Homo sapiens: one gene and its partners. The protein of the gene in region 4 purifies or fractionates together with the protein of the main gene of each other region. This does not show direct contact. Each region holds a gene or a part of one and is shown on either strand. Other genes may lie near its edges. The genes, in order: RSL1D1, TSR1, RBM19 and RRP12.

Region 1 (7,023 bases), on a different chromosome or scaffold from region 4:
AAAGTGACAAAAGCATACCCATTTTACCTCATGTAAAGTGACAAAAGCACAACCACCACAAAACCAGAAGATAACTGAAAAGTCGGGCAGCGATGATGGTCTACTTCTCTCCTAGTGACTGAATTTACACCCTTCATTATTCATTCTGTAAGTATTTAAAATTCTACTAACTTTTTTCTTCTTATTAAGCAAAGATCTTTTGGTGGCTTCATCCCAATTGCTGACAAACGAGGAAAAGATGGGAAGTGCAGCCGATTTCTCAGTTTTCACAAACAGGAGTTTCACGCTCTCCCACTTCTGAAACAAAGAAAAGAGTAACATCGTCTACATATACTTTGTTTCTTTTAAATGAACAATCAATTGATGCACCTGTAATACTGTACCTCTGGCAATTTTTCTGAAAGTCCTTTGGTGACAGCAACAATGTTTTCAATGATGTGCTCAATTTGCATTCCAACGTGACCAATACGTATAGCACTGAAATTTAATATAGTATTAGACAAGATTTTAAAAAACCATTTTTCAAAATAAACCAGGCAGGTATATGAGAAATATAAATACATAATCCTCAAGTTTTTCTTTTTCTTTTAAAAAGGTAGAAATATTAATCCCGGGCAACATGGCAAAATCCTGTCTCTACCACACTAACAAAAATTAACTGGGCATGGTGGTACATGCCTGTAATCCCAGTTACTCAGGAGGCTGAGGCAGAAAAATCACCTGAGCCCAGGAGCTCAAGGCTACATACAGTGAGCCCAGATCTGGCGACTGCACTCCAGCCTGGGTAACAGGGAAAAACACAGTCTGAAAAAAAAAACAAAACAAAAAAACAAACAAAAAAATCCCATTAAAATCTTTAGGTTCTAAATATATTTTATTTCATTTTTGAGACAGGGTTTTCCTGTCGCCCAGGCTGAAATGCAGTGGCACAATCAACGTACTGGGCTTAAGTAATCCTTCCAACTCAGCCTCCGGAGTAGCTGGGACTACAGGTCACCCAGCTGATTTTTGTATTTTTTGTAGAGATGGGTTCTCACTCCTGAGCTCAAGTGATCCACCAGGCTGGTATGGAACTCCTGGGCTCAAGTGATCCTCCTGCCTCAACCTCCCAAAGTGCTGGGATTATACACATGAGTCACCACACCCAGCCTAAATATGTTTTAAAGGAAGATTATCATCTTTCATGTACTAGAAATTCCTTCTACCTAAAGTAAAATGTCACATCATGAAGGGGTGACTTTTTTTTTTTTTGAGATGGAGTTTGCTCTGTCGCCCAGGCTGAAGTGCAGTGACGTGATCTCGGCCCACTGCAACCTTCGCCTCCTGGGTTCAAGCAATTCTCCTGCCTCAGCCTCCCTAGTAGCTGAGATTACAGGCGCATGCCACCACGCCCAGCTAATTTTTTTTTTTTTTTTTTGAGATGCAGTTTCACTCGTTGCCCAGGCTGGAGTGCAATGGCGTGATCTTGGCTCACTGCAACCCCCACCTCCTGGGTTCAAGCGATTCTCCTGCCTCAGCCTCCCGAGTAGCTGGGATTACAGGAATGCGCCACCACGCCCGGCTAATTTTTTGTATTTTTTTTTTTTTTTTTAGTAGAGACGGGGTTTCTCCATGTTGGTCAGGCTGGTCTCAAACTCCCGACCTCAGGTGATCCGCCTGCCTCGGCCTCTCAAAGTGCTGGGATTACAGGCGTGAACCACTGCGCCCGGCCTAATTTGTGTATTTTTAGTAGAGATGGGGTTTCACTGTGTTGGCCAGACTGGTCTCAAACACCTGCCCTCAACTGATCCACCTGCCACGGTCTCCCAAAGTGCTGGGATTACAAGCGTGAGCCACCATGCCCAGCCGAGGCAGTGATTAAAGAGCTGGTAGCACCTGACTGTGAGGTTAGGCGCATTGGGAGGCAGGGCCAGAGGAGGTTCTACCTTTATCTTAGACAACCCCATGTCGCTGAGTCCGCCTTCAAGCTGTTCTAAAGGGACCTACCTCCAGGAGGGTCACCTGCTCTCTCTATAGTTCTACTGCTCTACCCAGCCGCCATGTTCAAGAATAAATAGTTCTGTGGCTGGGCGTGGTGGCTCACGCCTGTAATCCCAGCACGTTGGGAGGCCAAGGTGGGCAGATCACGAGGTCAGGAGACCGAGACCATCCTGGTTAACATGGTAAAACACCGTCTCTACTAAAAAAATACAAAAAAATTAGCTGGGCATTGTGGTGGGCGCCTATAGTCCCAGCTACTTGGGAGGCTGAGGCAGAAGAATGGTGTGAACCCGGCAGGCGGAGCTTGCAGTGAGCTGAGATCAAGCCACTGCACTCTAGCCTGGGCGACAGAGCAAGAACTCTGTCTCAAAAAAAAAAAAAAAAAAAAAAAAGAGTAAATAGTTCTTGTCCCTGGTGGAATAGTGTCTTTCAGCTACGAGCAAGACCATCCCTTCAGGTGAAACAGAGTGCAGGCAGAAGCCCAGTGGGAAGCCTGGAGGGCTCAGCGCTGGGGCCAGAAGGAAGTGAGCCAGAAGGAAGGCTCACTGTCGGCACAGTGTCTGCGGAATGAGGAATGAGACGGACTGTTGCTCCTCTCTCTCTTCAGCCAAAGACTGGGCACTGCCCACTCCCTGTGCCTGTCACCACCTGCCTGCAAGCACACCTGAGCATCCCAGATGGAAAGATGGTGGGGGGGAAGAAGGGAGAGGAACAGAAGTGGAAGAGGAAAATAAATTCTTTTGCTGGGGAAAGGTAAGAGAGGAAATAAAGAATGATTTCTTTTTTTCTCAATTGTCTGCAACTTTCTTTAAGCTGTTGCTTTTGCCTTGGAAAATCCCCAGTGGCAGGAGACTGCTGCTCCTTTACCTGCCTTCATGGTACCATCTTCTTCTCCCAGATACTCATGGGTCCCATAAACAAGGCCTGAACTTCTAGCCAACCACTTCCATGAGCCACTACTTTGACATTAGCCTTTAACCAAAGGGGTAGGGGTCTAGGCTCCGTGACCAACTCTTCTAGGCTACTTCATTACACCTGATGAAGGGATTCCCAGCAGCAGGCTAAAGACAACACCAGAGACCACCTGTCCTGCCCACCAGTACCCTGCTCTGCTCTACCTGGAGACACTCCCCTGGGGTCAGGCCTCCCTGGTGAGCAGAGGCAAGAAGTCTGTGTTGTTTTCTGCCGACTGTGTCCACTGGGTCTGCACGGCTCCTGGGGAATCTCTGGGTGGAAGGGCAGTGGCCTACAGCTCTGCCTTACTGGCAGCTAGCCATCTCCACACCGCAGTCAGCAAGTGCAGTACTTCATAAAATGTATTTTCAATACATTTAAAACCTGCCCTACCTCCCCAAGCTGATACACTGCCAATAATACAAACTTAAGTCACTTCTCAGCCTAATAAAATAGCCTGAACCGCATCCTTTGCTCAGCCAGAGGTTGGAAGCAATCACTGCCCTAAAACATCTGTTCTAGTAGGTAAGACTAGGTGTGGGGGCTCCGCCTAGCTCAGTATCCAGGGTAAGGTTAAACCAATATGACAACACACACACCAAATAGGCAGATGAACAGGATAAGTGCTGAATTCATTTAATAGGAAGTTAAACCAAGAATGAGGTGGATCTTCACGTTAAGGGGTAATATGGTGCTTTTAAAGGACAATCTGAGGCCAGGTGTGGTGGGTCACGCCTATAATCTCAACACTTTTGGAGGCCAGGACAGGAGGACCGGTTTTGTCTAGGGGTTCAAGTCTAGATGGGGCAAAATAGTGAGACCCCGCCGCTACAAAACATTGAAAAATTAGCCAGGTATGGTGATGTGTGTCTGTAGTCCCAGCTACTCAGGAGGCTGAGGTGGAAGGATTGCTTGAGCCAAGGAGTTGGAGGTTGCAGTGAACTGTGACTGCACCACTGAGTGCAGTGGCACGATAAAGGACAAGCTCAAAGCCTAGAACTAGTCATGTTCTCCAAGCATTCATCTTACTCTCCTTGCTTTTCTTAGTATCTGGAGCTGCCCCGTCCAATGCAGTGACCATCAGCCACTAGCCACATGTGCCTATTTTAAATTAACTAAAAATTCAGCTTCTAACACAGTAGCCACATTTCAAGTGCTCAATAGCTACATACAAATAGTGCCTACTGTATGAGACAGCACAGATGCAGGCCATTTCCATCACAGTAGAAAGTGCTATCAGACAACATTGTTCTAGAGAACTGAACTTTTTTTTTTTTTCATTTAAAGACAGTCTTGCTCTGTCATTCAGACTGGAGAACAGTGACAAGAACATGGCTCACTGCAGTCTTGACCTTCTAGGCTCAAGTGATCCTCCTGCCACAGCCTCCTGTGTAGCTGGGAGCACAGGGATGCACCACCACACCTGACTAATGTTCTTGATTTTTCTGTAATTGGCTGGGGGAGAGGGTCTCATTATGTTGCCCAAGCTGGTCTTGCACTCCTGGGCTCAAGCGATCCTCCTGCCTAGGCCTCCCAAAGTGCTGGGATTACAGGCATAAGCCACTGCACCTGACCCGAGAATTGATCACTTCTGAGGAATAGATTTTAGTTTTAAAAAAGGATCTGGAGCCATTAACAAAATCTTTTTAAAAAGGCCAGGTGCAGTGGCTCACGCCTGTAATCCCAGCACTTTGGGAGGCCAAGGCGGGCGGATCATGAGGTCAGGAGATCGAGATCATCCTGGCTAACTCGGTGAAACCCTGTCTCTACTAAAAATACAAAAAGAAATTAGCCGGGCGTGGTGGCAGGCGCCTGTAGTCCCAGCTACTCGGGAGGCTGAGGCAGGAGAATGGCGTGAACCCAGGAGGCGGAGCTTGCAGTGAGTCGAGATGGTGCCACTGCACTCCAGCCTGGCAGACAGAGTAAGACTCCATCTCAAAAAAAAAAAACAAAAACAAAAAACAAAACAAAACGAATAAGTATATATAAAATCATTGTCAAATACAAGATTAAAAGAGGCACACATGAATGCCTTTTACCTACCTGCAAGAACCACTTTTAGAAATGTTTAAGACTGTTCCACCTATACAGTCATTGATCTCTCTTGATAAATTCTTGGACAGAAGGTTTACAGATACTGGAACTCTACAAAATAAACACACAGGCATTCAGAACACAATGCATACACACCTAGAAGCTTCATGCTGCTAAAGTCCAGTCATTACTAAGAAACTTACTTCTTTCTTTGATAGAAATGTCTCCCAATGAGTGAGGGTAAGAGCCGCCTAATTCTGGCATCAGTAAGGAAGAAATCAAAACTGCTCAGAAGGCGGAGCTTGGCTTCATAGGATTTATATTCCTTCTTTAGAGTTTGGAGGGAGATAATCTAGGAAGTATAGAGAAGAATAAAAACAAGAAGTTAGGAATCTAAACAAGGAGAAGAAATACTTAGGCAACAATTTGGATTTGGATTTAAAAATGTCCTAGAGCCATGCCTCTATACTTTAATGAACACTTGAGGGCCTAAAATGTGCCAGGCACTACGCTACATGCTGGGAACACTGAGACAAATGAGAAAAGACCCCAGCTAAAGCAACTTAGATCTAGGTGGGCAACATATATATATTATTATACATATGTTGCTGTATGTGCTTACGCCTGTAATACTAGCCCTTTGGGAGGCCGAGGTGGGTGGATCACCTGAGCTCAGGAATTCAAGACCAGCCTGGCCAACATGGTGAAACCTCGTCTCTATAAAAATATAAAAATTAGCCGGGCATGATGGCAGGTGCCTGTAATCCCAGCTATTCGGTAGGCTGAGGTGGGAGAATAGCTTGAACCTGGGAGGTGGAGGTTGCAGTGAGCCGAGGTCCTGCCATTGAATTCCAGCCTGGGCGACAGAGCGAGACTCCAAACAAACAAAAAAACTTAGATACCTTAGATCCAGAGGGTAATAAAGACAAGTACACCAACTACAAAACAGCAAATCAGAGAAAAACAAGATGCTGTGGAAGTACAGAGGAATGACACGAGCCACCTCTTTTATAATTTGCAAGATATAAAAGCTACTGATGTACACGCCACCACAAATTAAATTAAAAAGAGAAAAGTAGAAGAAAAATACTAGGAAATATAGCAATGTATTTGTGATACCATTTCGCCTGAATTAAATCCTCTAAATAACTTGAAAATATTAACCAGGCTTCCTACCTGAGAAACGGTTTTAATTCCATGCTTGTTTAAAAGCTTTCTATAAAACTGTTCTGTCTTTTCAGGAGTTGAATTGGGTTCATCCTTCGTAAATAAACAGATATCTTCTGAATCTGATCGAATACTATGAGGCAAGGTCCTACAAAATACGTGAAAAGAAACCGAGGAAAGCATTATTACACACATTATGCATGTTTGTATCACACAGAATACGCGATAAACTTAGTGTTATTTAAATAACTTTTAGTCATGCTAGTTAAGCAAATAATGCACCAAGAACAACACTTAAAAATACATTTCATGGCCGGTAGTAGTGGCTCAAGCCTGTAATCCCACACTTTAGGGAGGCCAAGGCAGATGGATCACCTGAGGTCAGGAGTTCAAGACCAGCCTGGCCAACATGGTGAAACCCTGTTTCTACTAAAATTATAAAAAATTAGCCAGGCACGGTGGTAGGTGCCTGTAATCCCAGCTACTTGAGAGTCTGAGGCAGGATAATCGCTTCAACCCGGAAGGTGGAGGTTGCAGTGAGCCAAGATCGCACCACTGGACTCCAGCCTGGGTAACAAGAGGCAAACTCCGTCTCAAAACACAAAAACAAAAAACAAAACTCACTTTCAATGGCAAGTAAATCACAAAAACACACAGGCCCAAATATCAATTAACACTTGGGATACAACAAGAATTAAAATATACTTAAAGACTTCCAAATGCTTGCATATATAATTATTATACATATGTTGCTGTATGTGCACACGTACTGTAATGCGCTATAAAAACCTAGCTTAATCAGGACAAGCCTGGTTCAGAATTTTACCTTCTTTAAAACTCTTAGCTCCATAAACATAATAACTCTTTCTTCTTTTCCTTTTTTTGAGA
Region 2 (7,005 bases), on a different chromosome or scaffold from region 4:
GCACTGGTGGAAAAAGTCATCATCCTCTTAAAAAATATTTCCTGGCGGTCGCAGTGGCTCATGCCTGTAATCCCAGCACCTTGGGAGGCCAAGGCGAGGTCAGGAGATCGAGACTATCCTGGCCAACATGGTGAAACCCCATCTCTACTAAAATACGAAAAATTAGCTGGGTGTGGTGGCATGTGCCTGTAGTCCCAGCTACTTGGGAGGCTGAGGCAGGGAAATCGCTTGAACCCAGGAGCTGGAGGTTGCAGTGAGCTGAGATCGCACCACTGCACTCCAGCCTGGCGACAGAGCAAGACTCCGTCTCCAAAAAAAAAAAAAAGTATTTCCCATTATCTGTGACTAACCTCCAAAATTGAGCCATATCTATAATCCCAGCATATCCACCTCAAGTGTAGACACAAGTACTTTTCTATTTTGTTTACACTGTTCAAGTCTCTGTCACTAGACTGCTTCCTTTTGCAGGAGAATCAAGATTTCTCTTTTCATTGGGGAGAGCAGAATTGGGCTTAAATGCTGACTTGATACACCCCTGGCCTAAGAAATCCTTTTTTGGGCCTCTTCACAGCAAAGACATAATGAAGCTTCTCCCACAAGCGGGAAAGCTGATGGCTTCAACTACATCTTTACCAAGGGGAGGGGTGGGAACAAACATTAGGGCCTAGTAGCCAGGCCATGGCTAACGCATGAGAACCATCTAGAGATTTCCGGGACTTTTTTTTTTTTTTTTTTTGAGATGGAGTGTTGCTCTGTCGCCCAGGCTGGAGTGCAGTGGCACGATCTGGGCTCACTGCAAGCTCTGCCTCCCGGGTTCATGCCATTCTCCTGCCTCCCAAGTAGCTGGGACTACATTCGCCCGCCACCACGCCCAGCTAATTTTTTGTAGAGAGAGGTTTCACCGTGTTAGCCAGGATGGTCTCGATCTCCTGACCTCGTGATCCGCCCGTCCCAGCCTCCCAAAGTGCTAGGATTACAGTCGTGAGCCACCATGCCCAGCTTTCTTTTTTAGACGGAGAGTTGCTCTGTCGCCCAGGCTAGACTGCAGTGGTTCGATCTTGGCTCACTGCAACCACACCTCCTGGGTTCAAGCGATTCTCCTGCCACAGCCTCCCGAGTAGCTGGGATTACAGGTGCCCACCACTGTGCCTGGCTAATTTTTGTATTTTTTGTTTTTTTCAGTAGAGATGGGGTTTCACCATCTTGGCCAGGCTGGTCTGGAACTCCTGACCTCGTGATCTACCCGCCTCAGCCTCCCAAAGTGCTGGGATTACAGGCGTAAGCCACCGCGCCTGTCCACTTTCCAGGATGTTATGAGAGTCCAGACGCTTCCCCAACCCTGAAACTCTAATTACGGCTCAGCTAAGGTAAACTTTTTTTTTTTTGAGACGGAGTCTCACTCTGTCGCCCAGGCTGGAGTGCAGTGGCACAATATCGGCTCACTGCAATCTCCACCTCCCAGGTTCCAGCGATTCTCCTGCCTCAGTCTCCCGGGTAGCTGGGATTACAGGCACGCACCACCACCCCTGGCTTATTTTGGTATTTTTAGTAGAGACGGGGTTTCACTATATTGGCCAGGCTGATCTCGAACTCCTGAGCTCAGGTGATCCACCCACCTAGGCCTCCCAACGTGCTGGGATTACAGGCGTGAGGTTATATATATATATATTAGGGAGACGGCATAGAGACTCAAGGTCACACAGAATTAGGTCCAGACTATTCCAAAATGTATGCTTTCCAAACACCAGGCCTCGAAGTCTCCAAAATCAGCACATTTATTTACCAAACAGTCACGGAGTGCCTACAGTATGCCAGGCACTGGATACAAGGCAGTGGACAAAACAGAGGGTCTCCTGCCCTGGTGGAGTTTACTTACCAGGCAGACAACAGCCACAGAGGCAGGCAGGGGAAGGAGGCCCAATGTATTCTAAGCTGCGCTGTGGGTTGGAGCTCTCCAGCTCTCATATGGGAGTGAGTCATTCACATGGTCACTGCCCCCCACCCGAAATGGAAATGGGCTTTTGGGCAGGGTCAAGGTAAACGGAGTTAGTAGAGGGAAGGACTACTTCTCTTTCTGAAGTAGGGGGGCTTCCCTCAAAAGGGAAAAACTTCCGAGTGTTAAAAACCATTCCAAACAAGCCCCTGGTCCCTGGCTAAGGAGGTGGGCGTGGAGGGAGAAACTGAGGTGTGCGGCGCACCCCTCCGGCAGCGATCACTCCGTAGCTGGAGGCACAGCGGACGTCGGACAAGGGGGAGCTCAGCCCGCACGACACCCACTTAGGACGTGGGGAAGCTCGGCCCGCACGACACCCACCTGCGCCGCGGGAGCTCGCGCGGGGCCCCGCCCCCTCCCCTGGCGGCGCGGGCACTGAATGGGCAGCTCCGGATCCAGCCATCCCCGCCATCGCCGCCACCCCTCCCCCGGCCTTGGGCTCCCAGCGCCGCTGCCGTCACTGGGCGGGGAGCTGCGGGGCTGCGAAGCAAACAAGCCGGGAGCGCCGGCCGGGTCCCCCGGGCAGAGGGGCGCTGCCCTCCCCCATCCGAGAAAGGGGAAGGAGGCGCAGCCCGTCCAGGACCCGCCCCGCCCGGCCCAGGTTCGGCCCGGGTGCCCGCGCCGGGGGGTGGGCGCGGACCTTTCTGCCCCCTGGGCCGCGCGGGCCAGGGCGCGAGCCCCCCGGGGTTCTTGACTCGACTTTACCTCCTTCTTCACGTTCCACAGCAGTTTCTCTTTGACTGCGTCCTCTGCGCTGCCCATGGTGTGGCAGGAGGCGGCGCCGAGCGGTCCTCAGAGCCCCCGCGCCCTCGCCGCCTCCGCGCCTCTCGGCTCAGCGCCCCACGCGCAAGGCGGAGCCCCCGCCCGCCGCGCTCCCGGCCCGCCGCCGCCGCCGCCGCCGCAGCCACTGCCCGGTGCTCGGCTCCGCAGCCATCTTCCGAGCCCCGCACAGACGTCAGGCGGCAGGCCCGGCCCCTTCCCACAGCCGGAGGGGGGTTGCGCACAGCGACGGGGGATCGGGGCGGGGAGAGGCCGTGCGCGCCTAGGGGCGGCAGACCCGGGCGCGCGCCACGGGGGTCGCTGTCATGGCAACGCACCCGCTCCCGCATGGAGGGCGCGAAGCCGCATTGTGAGCGCTGGCCCTGGAGCCCGCGGCCCCGCGGCTGAGAGCGAGCCTCGGTCCCGCTGAAGCTCCCCTGACTTCTGCCTGCTCCCTCTCCCGACGGGACGGAAAGGGCCGGGGCTCGGGCATGGGGTCCCCTGCGGTCCGAGCCTGCCCACGGCGAAGCCGGTGCAGCCTGGCCCCGTGACCCCTCTGAATCCCCGTCCGGCCGTCGCCGTGCAGTTGTCAAGTTTCTGGGAAGATTAGTGGGAGCGCAGCCGCCCGAGCCCGACGGCCGGAGGGTCGCGGCCAGTCCCCCTTGCCGGGTCGCCACGTCCCACAAGGTCCTTCCCGGCCGCTCCGTGGGAGGCGGGGCGCAGGTTGGAGTAACAGGGACGGGCTTGAGCTGGTACGGAACCGGGCAAGGTGAGAGAAGTGTCTTCCACGCGATTCCCAAGCCTCGCTAGGGAATCGAGGGAGAAGAAAGGTTGCTCAGAGTGATAAAGAACATGCCGTTGCAAACGGAAGAGCAACGTGCCCGAATCTAGGTGACAGGAAGGGCTTAGGCCTTTTCGGCACGAATGGAGCCTTCCAGTCAACATGCTTCTACGTGATGCAGCTTTATAGCGCAAAAAAATGACAATGCAAGGGGTACAAACAGCCCTGCTAGACCAACAGCCCGAGCCTCGACAGTCTACATCCGGCGCCTTCAAGCCCCCAACCACACACTGCGAAGTGGGAAAAGTTCCCAGCGCGGCTTGGCGAACCCGCTAACACGGCGCTCTCACGAGCTGCTGGAAAAGACCTTCGCGAGAGGGCGCAGGGAGTCCCGCTCCCTGGAGGGCCCGCCCCCTTGGAGGGGACCGGAAGCGCTTGTCCTGGCCCGGAAGCAGTGCTGACTCCGTACACGCGCGCTGCGGCATGGCGGCCCACCGCCCCGGCCCGCTCAAGCAGCAGAATAAAGCTCATAAAGGCGGACGGCATCGGGGTCGGGGATCTGCACAGCGGGACGGCAAGGGTAAGGAGATAACGTAGAAGGAATAAGGGCTATTTGGCCGTTATTAACTCTTTTTCCTCATGCCCAGACTGAGCTTCTGTCTCCCGTCTGGGCTCCACGCGAAAGGCCCTTTCTAAGGTGGGCGGAGAGGAGTCCCTTTTCTTGACCTTGTGGGGCCGATCACACCAGCCCCTTCTAATCTGCCATTCAGGCCGTCTGGCACTGAAAACCCTAAGCAAGAAGGTGAGAAAAGAACTCAGCAGAGTCGACCAGAGGCATCGCGCCAGCCAGCTCCGAAAGCAGAAGAAGGAGGCGGTGAGAGGAGCGGGATTTGGGAGAATGCGGCTTCTCTGGTGTTCTAGGTGGCTAATGCCTCGAAGTGGAAAATGAGACCGGGAGGAGGGTCCAGGGACAGAGCATAGCCCTAGAGCACGTGTCGAGCGTGCAGGTCTAGCATTCTTTGCTTTGGTCAGAATTCCTGCCACCCCGCTGGCATACCTGTGGTCTTTTACTAGAGAGATGCTGGTTTTGGGTAGGGGGAGCATCTGTGGGAGTGGAAATGCAATGCTGGAGTGAAGTACTGAGACACTGAGATGTTCTCGGATATCTTTCTATTTTCAGGTTCTGGCAGAGAAGAGACAGCTGGGTGGCAAGGATGGCCCTCCTCATCAGGTACTGGTGGTGCCCCTGCACAGCAGAATTTCCCTGCCAGAGGCCATGCAGCTGCTTCAAGATAGGGACACTGGAACAGTACACTTGAATGAATTGGGAAACACCCAGAACTTTATGCTGCTGTGCCCCCGCTTGAAACATCGGTGGTTTTTCACCTCAGCAAGGCCAGGTTAGAGTATACACCAATATTTTGTATTATGTTTGAGTAGTGGTATTTTTTTTTTTTTTTTTTAGAATAATGTGCTGGTGCCAACCACCTCTTCTTACTGTGTCTTCTATCTGCAGGGGATCTGCACGTTGTGTTAGACATGGCTAAAGTAGCTGATACCATCCTGTTCCTCCTTGATCCACTAGAAGGCTGGGACAGCACCGGTGATTACTGTCTTTCCTGCCTCTTTGCTCAGGGCCTTCCGACCTATAGTAAGTGAGTTAGCATTTATTGTGCACCTTTAATTTGTCAGGCACTATGCCTGGTATTTGATACAGGAATACAACTGATGGATCATATTCAGCTGGTGGTGGGATGTACACATATGGATTAAACTTGATCCATTGTTTACAGATTATCACTCAGGGTGTCTTTTTGTTTTTGGCTGTCCTTTGCCCAGAGAAACAAGGATATGAAGTTTGATTTCACTGTGAAATTCCTTCAGGGTAGTTCAGTGTTGGGCTTCCCAGTGATCTCTGGGCTTGCAACTGAGCTATTAGGTTGTTTGTGAACTGCAGAGGGATTTTTATGTAATGAAGCAGTAGGTCATGAAGCGTTTTCTCTTTCGCTTACAGCACTAGCTGTCCAGGGGATTTCTGGCCTCCCACTGAAGAAACAAATAGATACCAGGAAGAAGCTAAGTAAAGCAGTGGAGAAGCGCTTTCCGCATGACAAACTCCTCTTGTTAGACACTCAACAGGAGGCAGGGATGCTGCTTAGGCAGTTGGCTAACCAGAAGCAACAGCATCTTGCTTTTCGAGATCGGCGGGCCTACCTATTTGCCCATGCTGTTGATTTTGTTCCTAGTGAAGAGAATAACTTGGTGGGCACCTTGAAAATTTCAGGCTATGTTCGAGGGCAGACTCTGAATGTCAATAGGTTGCTGCATATCGTTGGATATGGTGATTTCCAGATGAAACAGATAGATGCCCCCGGAGACCCTTTCCCTTTAAATCCTAGAGGAATTAAACCCCAAAAGGACCCAGACATGGCAATGGAGGTAAGACTGATATTCTTAATTCATGTTCATATGAAAGTTGGCACAGGAAGGAAACTTAAATTCAGAGAAGATAGTCTGTACACTTAGGTGAATGAGGAGACTGCTAGTCTGAAGTAAGGCAATAGTCAGTTATAAATAGGTTGATAAATCACATATTTATCCAGCACTTTCTAGGTAGTCTGCACTGTGATTGGCTCTGAGTTTATAGAACACACTCAAGATGTGGTTGCTTTCCTCAAGGGACTTAATTGGGCTGGAACAAAATGGCATGTGTGAAATAAAGATTGAGATAGCATATGGTTAGAGTGCGGACCAGCAGTGGAAGTTGAGAAAGTAGACTAGCAAGCTTCACATAAGAGATCAGACTTGAGCTAGGTGTTGAGAAGGATAAATGTGATTTATGAGTTGAAGAGGGATAAAAGAATATCCTAGAAGATAAGAGACAGAATGAACCTAGGCACAGTGGTGGATCAAAGGGTTTATGTGAACCTTGAAGAAATCAGCTTGATGGGAGTGAGGTACGTAATAAATGGATAGGAGTGGGAGCAGATTAAGAAAGACCTCAAGAGCCAAGCAGAGACTTAAAATACCCTGGAAATTAGAAAACAGCCATTGGAAAAGTTTTGACAAGTTTTAGCATTCTGTCGCACTCATCTTATACATGAGGACTGATATTTCTGGGTCTTTCTGGTTACTGTGTTAGATTTAGGAGATTTTTGGTTCATGGTTGACTATCACCTGCTTTTGGTTTTCAGATTTGTGCTACGGATGCTGTAGATGATATGGAAGAAGGTCTTAAAGTCCTAATGAAGGCAGACCCTGGTAGACAGGAATCCTTGCAAGCAGAGGTTATCCCAGATCCAATGGAGGGAGAGCAAACCTGGCCCACTGAGGAGGAGCTGAGCGAGGCAAAGGGTCAGTATTGGTAAACTTGTCTGTAATTCATCTGACCTGGAATTGTGGATTTTCTGTAGCTGTTCCAAGTGAGGGCCCTATAGGATAGAGTGGGGTGGGGGTATAGTTGAAAGTCTCT
Region 3 (7,023 bases), on a different chromosome or scaffold from region 4:
GGCTCTGTGGGAGCCCAGATGGCAAGAGAGGAGAAAAGAACAGCCGAGAGGGTTGGGAGGCAGGAAGAGAGAAATGACAGAGGAAGGAGGGAGAGGGGAGAGATGAGCAGAACAAGGGTGCGGGGAGACAGAACAGAAGCGAGAGAATGCAAGAGAGGGAAGTTGGGGAGAGCGGAGGGAGAGAAGATACAGAGGGAGGTGGAGAGAGGATGGGGCAATGAAGAAAGATAAGGAGTAGGGGAGAGAATCAAAGGGGAAATGAGGAGGAGAGAGAAACACTAGAGTTAGTCTCAGCATCACCATGGCGGGGCTGCCTCCCTCGCACCCCCAGAAACTCTCCTGCTTCCCTGGCCATCCCCTCCCCATCTTCTACCCGCAGGGGAAAGGATTCCCTTGAGAAAAAAGAGAGAAAGGGTCTCCTGTGCTGCTTCCTCACAGCAGGTCAGAGCTTGGCTTGGAGGAAGCTGAAACCCTTCAGAGAGGCTGGACCAAGCAGTGGACAACGGCTGGGGAGACAAGTAGAAGTTGTTTCTGTTTTCTTGGAGGCCAGGCTAATGGTGCAGTACATGGCTGGCATACAACAGGTGCTCGATAAGTGGTGGGTGAATAGAACAGATGCAAAGCTCAAGGATTCCAGAGGAGGCGTGGAGGGAATGACAATTAGAGGTGGCTTTGAAGAGGAGGACTATTTGACTTGGGCTTTGAAGAATGCAGAGGAGTTTTCTGTGAGGAGAGGGGATTCAGGGTCATGAAGAAAAGCACGGAGGTAGGAAAGGGCATGGTGGGCTTAGCCCCACAAGCACCTCCTGATTAGGTACCATCATGAACCATGGCTCCACTCCTGTCAGCAACCCCACAGGCAGGTGGTATGCTGCCTCTTGTAGGAGACGGAACTGAGGCACGGACAGGCAGGTCTGAAGTCACTCAGCTAAGAAGCGGTGGAGCCAGGATTCGAACCCCAGTCACACCTAAGCCCACAGTCTTTCTGCTTTTTATGAAAGTCTCGGGTTCTAGGCAGAGAACTCCAAGGGGATCAATGGTGGCAGGAGAGGACGTGTGGGGCCCCTTGGCCCTCCAGGAAAAGAGCGAGGTTGGAATCCAGGCTGGCTTCCTCTGTCAGTCCCTCTGCTAGTCTAACCACTTGTCGATGAGCAGCCTTGCTCACAGATAAGGCTTGATTTGTACAGAGGCAGTGTAAAGAGGCTGTCCAAATCCCCTCCCTTTCCATGGCTCAAACACCTCCCCAAATAAACCACCCTGAGGCCCTTTACCTCCATTTATCCGCAGGCTGTGAGCTCCCTGGAGCTCACAGCAGCGGCCTAGCCTTTTCTACTGAGACCTCCCCAGGGCTAGCACAGTGCCTGGCCCAGAGATGAAGACTTGGTTTCCCTCTGCGTGTTCCTGGGTGAGCGATTTCACCTCTCTGAGCCTGTTTCTTCAATCTCGTCCCTCCCAAATCAATTCAAACATTGAACCCGTTTCTCATCATCTCCACGGCTGCACCCCAATCCAAGTACCTCTCAGCCCCTCACTAGAGACCCCCCTCCCACCAAGGGATCCCTCTAAAACATGTGCGTCAGATCCACCACTCCCTAAGAAAGCCCCAAGTTCCTCTGGAGGCATCACTGGAGCTGGCCCACCTCCCCCTGCTCAAGACCTTTGCACCGGCAGCACCCAGATCTCCCTCTCCCTCTACCTCTGAGCTCCAATGCCACCCCACCCCCTGGCACTTTTTATTACCCACACTGCCGCAGGCCTTTCTTTGTGTGGGATGTTGTCTCACTCACTGCTGTGTCCCTGGCCTTAGCACACTGCCTGGTGCCTAGCAAGTGCTTGTGAAATATCCCAGAAAGGGGAATGAGCGGACGGAGCAAGGGTGAGAGAGAGACGGCAGAGCCTGCCCCATGGTGAGCGTGCAGAAGGTGCGGGAGGTGCCCACCTGCCTGCCACCTGAGAGCCTCAAGGCCTTGCAGCTCTACCCATCATTGTTAATCATGAAAAGGGAGAGGGGGACAGGGTGGGCTGGGGTGGTGGGGGCTGGCGGCCCGGGGCTCGGACTCCGGCTTCCTCTCCTTCCTTGTGACCTCCTAGACACTCTTGGTTTCCTTATAATCGCCAGCCCTGGAGGTGCACAATGGCCTCTGGAAATTGAATTTGTGGGCAGGTAATAGGAACTGGAAAATAGAACGCAACAAAACAGGGCCCACAGGCGATCACTGACGCCCCTCCCATCTGCTAATATGAGTTGGGGATGGCAGCTCACTCCTGGGGCAGGGTCCCTGCCTTCCTGGGCCAGGCCTGGCCTGGGGTCTAAGGGATGGCCAGCGGTGGCGGCATGGGACTTTTTCTTCTCTCCCACATCCTGACAACTTGGAGGGACTGGCGAGGGGCGAGTTCTAGCCCCATCCATTGTGTCGGCTCAACCTGTAAGATAGAGCTGGACTTGGGGTGCTTCTTCCCCATGCTCCTGCACCCCTGGGCCGTGCCACCATTGCCTCTGGCTTCCTCTGCCCTCCTCCCAGGAGTCTGGTCTCAAACGGCAGCCAGAGGGAGCTTGTTAAATCCTCCATCACGGCATGCTGTTCCTTTGCTCAAGCCTCCAGGGGCACCATCTCACCTGGGGAAAAGCTAAAGCTGTCACGTCGGCTGCCAGGGCTACTGAGCAGGCCCTGCCACCTCTCTGCTTCCCTCCCACTCTGCTCAGGCACTCGGGCCCCTTGCTGGCTCCTGGCTTCCAGCACTCCCACCTCAGGGCCTTGCACCTGCTGTTCCTTTGGTCTGGAATGCTCTTCCTCCACGGAGCCACTCAGGGGCCTTACCTTTTCAGTGAAGCTTCCCTCCTTATTTAAAATTCCAAGTCCTCCAGAGTGCCCTGATGTACACTTCCTAATCCCTTTCCTGTCCACTTCCCCCACAGCATGTCTCCCGGTCTCACTGTGTGTCATGTTTCCACTTTATTATCTGTCTTCCTGGCTGGAACATCTGCTCTAGGAGGGCAGGGGTTTCTGCCTGTTTTGTCCACTGTTCCATTCCCAATGCCCAGAACTGTGCCTGGCACATAGTAGATGCTCAATAAATGTGTGCTGAGCGACTGAGGGAGTGAATGACAGGGAAAATTGAGGGTCAAGTAGTGTAGGTTGCTGAAGGACAAACAGCAGCTGAGACGAGGCCAAGAGCAGTTGTTCAGAGCCTTCATCCATGCTCTCATCCCCTCACATGACGGAGACACCTGCAGCACCTGCTCTGGGTCGGGCATGGTGGGGAACAAGCCTGGCTTGGCCCCACCTAAGGCTTTCTGGTCTGGCAGGGGGAGATGGAGAAAGAACCAGATAGTTGTGCCTCAATTTCTAACCTGTAAAATGGAAATACTAGGGGTTGTGGTGAGGCTGAAATGAGTAAAAAGGGCAATGCCCAGCCCCTGGCTCAGTCGATGGTGCTGAGACCAACACCTGTGTTACTATTATTGATAGGAAAGGTGTTGACTTCGTGTCTCTCTTGGTCTTTGGGGCAGTGAGCACTCATGGGGCGGGGGCTCTTACGCGGAGCCTGGCTTTGTGGCCTTGATGAACCAAAACATCTCATTCCTTTACCTGCCAACTATGTACTCATGTATCATAAGCCAGCCTCCGTGCTCCTGGGCCTGGCATATCTGCCAGGGTTCAGGCTGGGCCCCCAACTGCCCCCTGGAGGACATGTCAGGCCCCGAGTTCCCACCGAATGACACCCCGCACCTCCCGCTGGCCCTGCTTCCTTGAGGAGCACCCTGTTTGCAGCGAACAGCTGCTGAAATCCCACTTCCCCGACATCAAAAGCCTCAGTGGGTTTTCACCAAACAAACATAATGCAGAACCGGAGAAAGGTGTAAAATAAATAAACGAAACAAGCTGTGCATTTTCTTTCAGTATTACAGCTGCACCCGAAGATAAACAACAAGTGAATGTCACCAAACATCAATACCCGAGAAATTAACTTGACAAAAAGCTCAGCCATCCCCCGACAACCCCCCAGTCCTGCCCCCCTCCCCACCAACCTCCAACCACCATTTTTGCATTTCTGGAGTTCCCACCTAATGATTTTATTTTTCAATTAATTCCTTGACAGAATGCCAGCCTGTGTCTCTCCCTTCCCTGGCTGGCGCTGTCGGCCCTGCATGGGAGGCGCAGGCAGGCAGGGAGAAAGGCGCAGGCAGGGAGAAAGGGCGGGGGGGCGGGGGGGTGCGTCGGGAGGACAAGAGAAAGCGCTTCTTGGGGTTTTGTTCTGGAAGCAGACGTTGAGGAAAGGCAAGCCGGGGGAGAAGAGCGTGGCTGATAAGGGGAGAAGGGAGTTCTGAAAGGAACCCTGGGATGAGGCAGGCGTGAACAGTCCGGGGAGGGGAAAAGCACTGGGCCAGGAAGCCCAGGGCTGGATTCTGAGTGGAGAGGCCTGAGGTACAGGGTGGAGGGTGCTAGATGCAGGGTGCTGGGTGGGTGAGCTGCCAGGATCAAACCCTGCTGCTCCTGGCTGGGCAACCTTGGGTAAGTTGCTTCACCTCTCTGGGCTCCTCTCAGTTTCTGCAGTTACTGAATGGTGATGAAATCTACACGCCTAGGGTGTGTGAGGGTATTAAAAGAATGAATATATGTATGTAAGGCCCTCACAATAGTGCCTAGCACACGGCAAGCTGTCAATATAGGTTGGTCATTCTTACTGCTGTTGATGGAATCTGTTACTGAGAGCACGAGGGTGGGCTGCTCCCCTCCTCTATAACACGATGATAGCAACAGCAGCTCTCGACTCTGTCTCAAAAAAAAAAAAAAAAAAAAAAGTGACCAATGGGATGGAGCAGGGCCTCCCACTGTGGGCCCACAGAAGAGTGTCTGGATTTGCTGACATGATTTGCCATGAATACAGAAATCAGTGACTAATGTTCAAAAACAGGGAGATGCTACATAAGAATCTGCACCTCTCGTTTCTCTTGAACCTGGAATGGCTAACCTGTGAGTGTGGCAGACCTGTCCCCTCCCTGCCTACAGGTAACTGATGAGGCTGTGCACTAGCTGCCCCTGGAGACACGCAGCCTCACTTATGGGGGCTTTTCTTCCTGTTCCTGGAGGCTCCTGAGTTGCTACTTCCCGAGACACAGGATAGGCAAGGCTTCCACAAACTCCGCTAAGTCGGAGACAGAACTGATTCCAAGAGGCCGGGGTGAAGGGCAGGGGGCGGGGGCACAGGTGGGCGAGGGGAGGAAGGAGGTTGGGGCAGAGTGTGGAGGCCAGAATGAGGCTCCACAATCTTCAGACTCAGTGGTGTGCAGTCCTAGGCTGCTGGGGGACACCAGCCACCTGTAGCTCCCACCCTTGGGGAGTATGAGGGTGCCATGATGTGGGTACCGCAGGGGGGCTGGGCACCCGGGGGCTGGCCTGGCTTGGGAGGCTGCCTGCTCTGGAAGGCTGGCTGAACCAGACCCCCACCCTCAGCTGCTGGTGCCTCTGCATGGGTCTCTCCCTGTCCTCCCTGGCTTCATATCTTGCAGCCCCCACGGGCAGAGCTCTCCTACCCAGATAGGTCTGCATCTCAGGGCTCTGTGTACAGCAGGCACACATCAGGTACGCACAGAATAAAGGGTACTCTTCAGGAGACTGGCCTGGCTCCTAAGACCAAGCCAATGTCCCTTTATTGATACAGGAGGCTGTTTTAGGGCTGTGCCTTTTTTTTTTTTTAAATAGACAGAATCACACTGTCACCCAGGTGAGTGCAGTGGAGCGATCTCGGCTCACTGCAACCTCTGCTTTCCGGGTTTGAGTGATTCTTGTGCCTCAGCCTCCCAAGTAGCTGGGATTACAGGCGTACACCACCAGGCCCAACTAATTTTTGTATTTTTAGTAGAAATGAGATTTCACCATGTTGGACATGAGCTCAAGTGATCCACCCGCCTTGGCCTCCTAACGTGCTGGGATTATAGGCATGAGCCACTACGTCCAGCCAGTTGTGCCTTTTTAAAACACAGCGAGTCCTTCTAAGAACTAGGTATGATCTGAGAGGGTCCTTGTGCAGAGCGGGTGGGCAGGAGCCTGGGCCGCAGACTGGCCTCTGCCACTGTGGGACTCCCAGGAGCTGCTAAGCTCCTTACCTCAGTGTTCCCACCTGTTAAACGGGGACGGTGCCTGCTCTGCTTATCTCATGGGGACCGTAAGGATTCCTGCCTTCAGTCACTCTTAGCAAGCATGACCCAGCATATTCTATGTGCCAGGAATGATGCTGGGGATATGGCAGTGAACAAAACTCCACAGGATAAACTAAACCACCAGCCATGGGGGCCACACTGGGGCTCAGGGTGGACAGGACGAGGTGGGACCTGAGTGCTGCCACTTGGTGGTCCCAGCCTTCTCTGAGTTACCAAAGTTACTCTTCTGCAGACAGGACACAGTAGTAGCACCCACCACAGGGGATTTGATGAGATAAAGCATGAGAGCACTTAGCCCAGGGCCCGGCCCGTTGAGGTGCCAGGCAAACATGAAAGCTAACAATCAAAGGGTCCTGTGAGGCCACCCCAGAGGACAGGCAGTGCCCAGCAAAGGGGAAATCCAGCTGCCCAAGATAAGGCCAAGGGGCGAGCTGCAGGGACCACTCCTCAGGCGCCTGCTGGCTCTAAGCAGCAGGCTGGCTCTGGACTTTCCTACAGAAATTCCACCAGCTAGGCAACATCATTGTCCCACTTTTCAGATGAGGAAGCAGCCGCACTAGGACTCTGAAGAGTCAAGTGGTCACACTTTCCAAGCAGGACCTTGAGCTCAGATAGGGTTGGCTCCAGCCTTACTGGCACAGCATAGCAAAGCCTGCCCCGCAGAGGGGGACACTAGCCCAGCCTCCCTAGGATGGGGGTCTCAACAGGAAAAGCATGAACAGACCCAGGCTATGTAGCAGCAATTTCCTTTTCAAAGGCCATTGGTTCTCAATCCAGCTGTCTGGTAGCATCAGCTAGGAACCCACTGATGCCTGGATCCTACCTCCAGAGGTTCTGATGCAAATGGCCTGGGGTGAGCA
Region 4 (7,500 bases):
GCGTGAGCCACCGCGCCCGGCCTTTTTTTTTTTTTTTTTTGAGACAGAGTCTCGTTCTGTCACCCAGGCTGAAGCGCAGTGGTGCGATCTTGGGTCGCTGCAACCTCTGCCTCCAGGGTTCAAGTGATTCTCGTGCCTCAGCTTCCCAAGTAGCTGGGATTACAGGCGCATGCCACCATGCCAGGCTAATTTTTTAGTAGAGATGGGTTTTCACCATGTTGGCCAGGCTGGTCTCAAACTCTTGACCTCAAATGATCTGCCCACCTCGGCCTCCCAAAGTGCTAGGATTACAGGTGTAAGCCACTATGTCCAGCCTGAAAATTTAGTTTTTAAATTTCAACTACTCATAATTTAAAATATTTGATCTATTTACTAGAAAACATATATTTGTAACAACCTGGCAAATAGGTTCGTAGTAATTCATAGTAGGCAAATCTACTTGTACAACCATAAATGTTATGAACTCTAAATAGACACAAATCAAGTATTTCCAATGAAAATTTAGCATCTAAGTAGGGGTATATGGGTAAATTATACACTAGATTTTGAAGACTTGGTATCATAAAAATAATGCTGTAGTAAAATATACTGATTATACATTGAAGTGATAATATTTTAAAGATACTGAGTTAAATAAAGTACATTATTAAGATTAATTTGGGCCGGGCGCAGTGGCTCACACCTGTAATCCCAGCACTTTAGGAGGCCGAGGCGGGTGGATCACCTGAGGTCAGGAGTTTGAGACCAGCCTGACCAACATGGAGAAACCCTGTCTCTATTAAAAACAGAAAATTAGCCGGGCATGGTGGCGCACGCCTCTAATCCCAGCTACTCGGGAGGCTGAGGCAGGAGAATCACCTGAACCCAGGAGGCGGAGGTTGCAGTGAGCCGAGATCGTGCCATTGCACTCTAGCCTGGACAACAAGAGCGAAACTCCGGCTCCAGAAAAAAATAAAAAGATGAATTTATTTTACCTGTTTCTTTCAGTTTTTAATATGGCTACTAAACATTTTTAAATTACATATGTGGCTTGAATTTAGATTACTATTGGACAGAGCTGGTCCAGGAAGACAGACAATGACCCATTAACAGGAGCTCTGTGAATGATTCAAGTTGGGGGATCTACCATCACATTATATTATTCTTATATCATTTTGATATCATTTAGAATTTTGACATTTTTTATTTCAATAACAAAAAATATATATAACTTTATAGTATAGATAAAATAATAAAAGTAAGGCCAGGCACGGTGGCTCATGCCTGTAATCCCAGCATTTTAGGAGGCCAAGGTGGGCGGATTACCTGAGTTCAGGAGTTTGAGACCAGCCTGGCTAACATGGTGAAACCCCGTCTCTACTAAAAATACACACACACAAAAAATTAGCTACTTGAATAATGCACTATTTAAATATACTAAAAAAAAAAAAAAAAAAATTAGCCGGGCGTGGTGGCACATGCCTGTAATGGCAGCTACTTGGGAGGCTGAGGCAGGAGGATTGCTTGGGCCTGGGAGATGGAGGTTGCAGTGAGTGAAGATTGCGCTACTGCACTCCAGCCTGGCCAACAGAACGAGACTCTGTCTCAAAATAAATACATGAATTAAGTTAAATTAAAGTAAATAAATTTAGTTCTTGCTAGATAAAACGTTTCCTAATCACTGTTACTCAGCATTTATTTACTCAACATATGTTTATTGAAAATACTCTGTGTAAAAGTGCTGTGTTAGGTATAGCTGAGGAGAGAAATGTTTGGAAAATATTTCTACCCTCAAGTACTTAAGCAGAGGAGATGTTCTTATAAAAAGCAGAAAGTAGAACCTGCCCTAGGAGGAGACATAAAGGGGAGGAGCGATGACGCATCATCCAGAAATACCAGCTGTTGTCATCGGAGACCTGTCGGCCAGAGCTGAAGAAAAGGCATGAGTTGGCCTCTCCTCACTATCCTATGGCCCTCCCGACCCTCGCCCCTACCTCCTTGTGGGCAGCCGAGTTGGACTCCCAGAAGCGCTGTACTTTGCTGAAGGTGACGTTTGTGCAGTCGGAAAGGCCACTCAGGAAGGTACCCGAGGACTTCTCGGTGAGAACCAGCTCCGCCTCTTCTTCCATGGGCGTCTCCGGGGCTTCGCTTTTGCCCAAGCGCAAGGACCCTGACTGCAGCTCATTATGTAACTTCACAGCATCGACTGTCAGGTCACTCCTTCCTGAGAGCCAGAGGCACAAGATAAGGTCCAAGCCTCCTTTTGGTCAAGAGAACAGAACAACCCCTGGGAAACAAACCAGCCCAGGCCAAATCTCCAACCCGAGAGGCTGAATTCTGAACACAGCCAGTCTCATAAAACCACTGTATGCCTAAAAACTTGAAAAACCAAGGAGAAAGGGAATCCTCCATGTAAAAGTTTCTGCTTCCCTGTAGCAGCGGCATAAACGCCACTGGGAATCGGCTGGGAGCTACATTCAGAGGGCCTGCAAAATAAATGAAGGTGAACGCGCTCTGTAAAGAGCTACCCAAGGTCCAAGCCATCTGTCTCAACTCTGACACCCGCGGTACCTTACACAAGACATTTCCCTACTGCGGACCTCAGTTTCTGTATCTGCTAAATTGGAAGGACTGCCCTTCAGAGAGGGCTCCAGATCCGACATCCTAAGAGACGAAAGGTCCAATGCCTGGCCCCGCACTCTCCCAGAGGCCCCAGACTCATCTGGACCCAGGTCTGCCTGGAACCCCGCCCCCGGCTGCGCTCGGGTCTCAACCCAGCTACCTGACGGCCGGCTGAAGAAGCGGCTGCGGGCGGCCTGACGGTGGCGGCAGATGGCGGGGTTGCTGTCGCTGCTGTGGCCTTTCTTCCAGCGCTTCAACTTAGCTGAGACACCAGAAGGCAACTTTCCCGAGCGACCCATGTTGACTAAGCCGTGGCGAGGAATGAGCTTAAATGACCGGCTTCCAGGGACGTAGAAACACGCTCAGAACCCACGTGGATACCCTGTAGCCTTCACTTCCTCTTCTTCTGGCGTCACTTCCGGATTCGTGTGCATTACTATGGTAAAACAGTCAACATCCGGTTTTACACCTCCTCCTGGCTTCGGATGGGGAGGAGCTCCAAGGAGATCCGTTGCTAGGGAGGAAGTTAGGTTGCTAAGGGTTCTATGGGGTTCTTACTCCAGCCAGGACCAGGTTTCAGGGCCACAGGCGTAAGCCTTATAAAACTGGAGTTTGGCTGAGCGTGGTGGCTCATGCCTGTAATCCCAATACTTTGGGAGGCTGAGGCGGGTGGATCATTTGAGGTCAGGAGTTTGAGACCAGCCTGATCACCAGGGTGAAACCCCGTCTCTACTAAAATAAAAAAATTAGCTGGGCTTGGTGGCGCGCGCCTGTAATCCCAACTACTCGGGAGGATGAGGCACAAGAATCACTTGAACTCGGGAGGCGGAGTTTGCAGTAAGCCGAGATCACGCCTCGGCACTCCAGCCTGGACAACAGAGTAAGACTGTCTCAAAAAAACAAAACAAAGCAAACAAAAAACTGGAGTTCTTTTGCAGTTAAACAACAACAAAAAGTACATTTATATTACATTTGAAAATCTATTTTCAAAATTAAGCATAGAAACACATTTATATGAAAGTCATATACCTTCATATAAAAGTATATATGTAATCCCAGCACTCTGGGAGGCCGAGGCGGGCAGATCACCTGAGGTCACGATGTTCGAGACCAGCCTGACCAACATGGAGAAACCCTGTCTCTACTAAAAATACAAAATAAGCCGGGCGTGGTCGCGCATGCCTGTAATCCCAACTACTGGGGAGGCTGAGGCAGAAGAATCGCTTGAACCTGGGAGGCAGAGGTTGCGGTGAGCTGAGATCACGCCATTGCACTCCAGCCTGGGCAACAAGAGTGAAACTCCATCTCAAAAAAAGAAAAAAAGAAAAAAAAGAAAAGTCAAAACTTATGGAGACTTGAAAGTGTGAAAATTAGCTTGACTTGAAAAGAGAAAAAAGCAGTCAGTGGTGTTCTAGACAAGCTTTGCTATTTTCATTTATTACTGGAGATACTCAGTTGCTAAGCCACCTTGCCTTATGACAGCATTCCATCCCTAATTAATCCCTGGTTCTCCAATTTCTCTCTCTCTCTCTCTTTTTTTTTTTTTTTTTTGAGACAGAGTCTTGCTCTGGTGCCCAGGCTGGAGTGCAGTGGCACGATCTCGGCTCACTGCAACCTCCACATTTCAGGTTCAAGCAGTTCTCCTGCCTCAGCCTCCCAAGTAGCTGAAATTACAAGCATGCACCACCGCGCCCGGCTAATTTTTTTTTTTGTATTTTCAGTACACGCAGAGTTTCACCATGTTGGCCAGGTTGGTCTCGAACTCCTTTCCTCAGGTGATCTGCCCACCTCCCAAAGTGCTGGGATTACAGGCATGAGCCACCGCACCTGGCATCCGGCCAATTCCCAGTTCTCCTAATTCCACCTCAGAACCAGCAACCGATCCAGTTTATCCCCACTCCCCTGAGACCCTCCTTAAAATCCTTCAACCAGATCCCAAACCTTACAAAAGACACATTTCTCTTCCCTCTTGCCCAGCAGCTTTATTCTAAACCTTTAGCAGCATTCTTTGGAAGAAGATATATAGAACTAACAAAGTACATCTATAATATATAAAGAATTCCTACCAATCAATAAGAACAAGGCAGACAATCCAATAAAAAGAATGGGCAAAAGGGACAGGTGGGTGCAGTGGCTGATGCTTGGCCTGGAATTCCAACACCGTAGGAGGCCGGGGGGCAGGGAGTAGAGGGGAGGAAGGATTGCTCCAGCCCAGGAGTTCAAGACCAGCTTGAGCAACATCATGAGACCCAGTCTCTACAAAACATACAAAAATTAGCTGAGCATGGTGGTGTGAACCTGTAGTCCAGCTACTCAGGAGGCTGAGGTGGGAGCCCAGAGAAAGTCAAGGCTGCAGTGAGCCGTGATTGCACCACTGCACCCCAGCTTGGGTGACAGTGTGAGACCCTGTCTCAAAAAAGAAAAAAAATTAAAAAAAAAAAAAAAAAGAATGGGCGGCTGGGTGTGGTGGCTCACGCCTGTAATCCCAGCATTTTGGGAGGCCAAGGTGGGCAGATCACGAGGTCAGGAGTTCAAGACCTGGCCAACATAGTGAAAAACCCCATCTCTACTAAAATACAAAAAAAATTAAGCTGGGCGTGGTGGTGGGCACCTGTAGTCCCAGCTACTTGTGAGGCTGAGGCAGGAGAATTACTTGAACCCTGGAGGTGGAGGTTACAGTGAGCTGAGATCGTGCCACTGCACTCCAGCCTGGGCATCACAGCGAGACTGTGTCTCAAAAATAAAAAAAAAGAAGAATGGCAAAAGACACAAACAGCTGAACATCATGATGTATTGTACAAAAAATAAAAAAGTCATGAACAGGCACTTCACAAAAATTAATATCCAAATGGCCAATAAATATATGAAAAACAGGCCAGGCATGCTAGCTCACGCCTGTAATACCGGCACTTTAGGAGGCTGAGGCAGGAGGATCACTTGAGCCCAGGAGTTGGAGACCAGCCTGGCCAACACAGCAAGACCTGTCTCCTCAAAAACTAAGAAAAATAGTGGGGTGCAGTGGCGTGCACCCATGGTCCCAGCTACCTGGGAAGCTGTGACAGGAGAATCTCTTAAGCCCAGGAGTTTGAGGTTGTAGTAAGCTATGATAGCACCACTGCACTCCAGCCTGGGTGACACAGTGAGACTTTGTCTCAAGAAAAAAAAAAGAAAAAGAACAGACCAGAACAGAAAAGATACCAGTTTCATTATCAACATGGGAATACAAATTAAAATCACAATGAAATGCCACTACACACCCACCAGAATGGCTAAAATTAAAAAGACTAGCAATACTAATGTTGGTAAGGATGTGGAGAAACTGGCAACATATGCTGCCATTGGAGTATAAAGTGATACAACCATTTTGGAAAACTGTGTGGTAGTATCTACTAAAACTGAATACAGTCTTGCTCCATGACCCAGCAATACCTTCCTGCATATTTACTCAACAGAGATGTTTACTTATATGCAAAAAAGAGATATAGGAGGATGTTCACAATGGAAATAATAAAATGTCCATCAACCGTAGAATGAGGCTGGATGCACTGGTTCACACCTGTAATCTTAGTGCGTTGGGAGGCTGAGGCAGGAGGATTGCTTGAGGCCAACAGTTCAAGACCAATCTGGGCAAAATAGTGAGACCCCATCTCTAAAAAAAAATTAAAAATTAGCCACATGTGGTGGCATGCACCCGTAGTCCTAGCCACTTGGGAAACTAAGGCAGGAGGATCACTTGAGCCCAAGAATTCAAGGTTAGAGTGAGCTATAATCATGCCACTGCACTGCAGCCTGGGCAACACAGTGAGACTCTGTGTCTAGAATAGATAGATAGATAGATAGATAGATAAGACAGACAGGCAGACAGAGAGATAGAGTAGAATGGATAAATTGTGACATATTGATATATAATGGAATACTATAGTATTTGACTCTGTATAGCAATGAGAAGGAACTACTGCTACATATATCATGCATGACCTAGGTTGAGTAAAAGACTCCAGACACAAGAGTACATAGTTATAATCCCATTTATTTATGATTTAATTATTTATTTATTTATTTTGAGACAGAGTCTTCCTCTGTCACTCAGGTTGAAATGCAGTGGCACAATCATGGCTCACTGCAGCCTTGACCTCCAGGCTCAAGCAATCCTCCCACTTCTGCCTCCCGAGTAGCTGGAACCACAGGCATGCATTGCCATGCCTGGCTAATTTTTTTTTTTTTTTAAAGCTAGGGCCTCACTCTGTCACCCAGGCTGGAGTCCAGTGGCATGATCATGGCTCACTATAACCTTAAACTCCTGAATTCAAGTCATCCTCCTGCTTTGGCCTCCCAAATAGCTGGGGCTACAGACACATACCCACCACACCAAGCTAATTTTTTTTTTAAGAGACAGAGTCTTGGCCAGGCGCGGTGGCTCACGCCTGTAATCTCAGCACTCTGGGAGGCCGAGGCGGGCAGATCACAAGGTCAGGAGATCGAGACCATCCTGGCTAACACAATGAAACCCTGTCTCTACTAAAAATATAAAAAATTAGCTGGGCGTGGTGGCGGGCACCTGTAGTCCCAGCTACTCGGGAGGCTGAGGCAGGAGAATGGCGTGAACCCAGGAGGCGGAAGTTGCAATGAGCTGAGATCGTACCACTGCACTCCAGCCTGGGCAGCAGAACGAGACTCCTTCTCCAAAAAAAAAAAAAAGAGACAGAATCTTGCTATCGTTGCCCAGACAAATCTCGATCTCCTGGCTTCAAGTGATCTGCTCGCCTTGGCCTCCCAAAGTGCTGGGATTATAGGCGTGAGCCACCATGCCCTGCTTACATGTATATTACACTTCATGGGCTTACTGAAAATACAAAGTGGGCCGGGGGCGGTGGCTTACGCCTGTAATGCCAACACTCT

The links.
Region 1: the proteins of RRP12 (region 4) and RSL1D1 purify together in Homo sapiens (affinity purification with mass spectrometry; 2 studies listed by BioGRID and IntAct, with this or other methods). This does not show direct contact.
Region 2: the proteins of RRP12 (region 4) and TSR1 purify together in Homo sapiens (affinity purification with mass spectrometry; 4 studies listed by BioGRID and IntAct, with this or other methods). This does not show direct contact.
Region 3: the proteins of RRP12 (region 4) and RBM19 purify together in Homo sapiens (affinity purification with mass spectrometry; 2 studies listed by BioGRID and IntAct, with this or other methods). This does not show direct contact.

What each region holds. Positions count from the first base shown.
Region 1 is NC_000016.10:11,841,524-11,848,546, forward strand, and holds part of RSL1D1 (ribosomal L1 domain-containing protein 1), read right to left. Parts: intron 6,284-7,023; coding exon 6,145-6,283; intron 5,321-6,144; coding exon 5,172-5,320; intron 5,080-5,171; coding exon 4,978-5,079; intron 478-4,977; coding exon 384-477; intron 298-383; coding exon 172-297; intron 1-171. UniProt on the Homo sapiens protein: Regulates cellular senescence through inhibition of PTEN translation. Acts as a pro-apoptotic regulator in response to DNA damage.
Region 2 is NC_000017.11:2,333,439-2,340,443, reverse strand, and holds the start of TSR1 (pre-rRNA-processing protein TSR1 homolog), read left to right. Parts: upstream 1-3,986; 5' UTR 3,987-4,016; coding exon 4,017-4,113; intron 4,114-4,303; coding exon 4,304-4,407; intron 4,408-4,713; coding exon 4,714-4,933; intron 4,934-5,049; coding exon 5,050-5,184; intron 5,185-5,547; coding exon 5,548-5,972; intron 5,973-6,727; coding exon 6,728-6,887; intron 6,888-7,005. Other genes in the region: SGSM2 (small G protein signaling modulator 2), read right to left, coding at 2,699-2,755. UniProt on the Homo sapiens protein: Required during maturation of the 40S ribosomal subunit in the nucleolus.
Region 3 is NC_000012.12:113,823,318-113,830,340, forward strand, and holds part of RBM19 (probable RNA-binding protein 19), read right to left. Parts: intron 5-7,023; coding exon 1-4. UniProt on the Homo sapiens protein: Plays a role in embryo pre-implantation development.
Region 4 is NC_000010.11:97,398,332-97,405,831, forward strand, and holds the start of RRP12 (RRP12-like protein), read right to left. Parts: upstream 3,010-7,500; 5' UTR 2,901-3,009; coding exon 2,762-2,900; intron 2,204-2,761; coding exon 1,974-2,203; intron 1-1,973.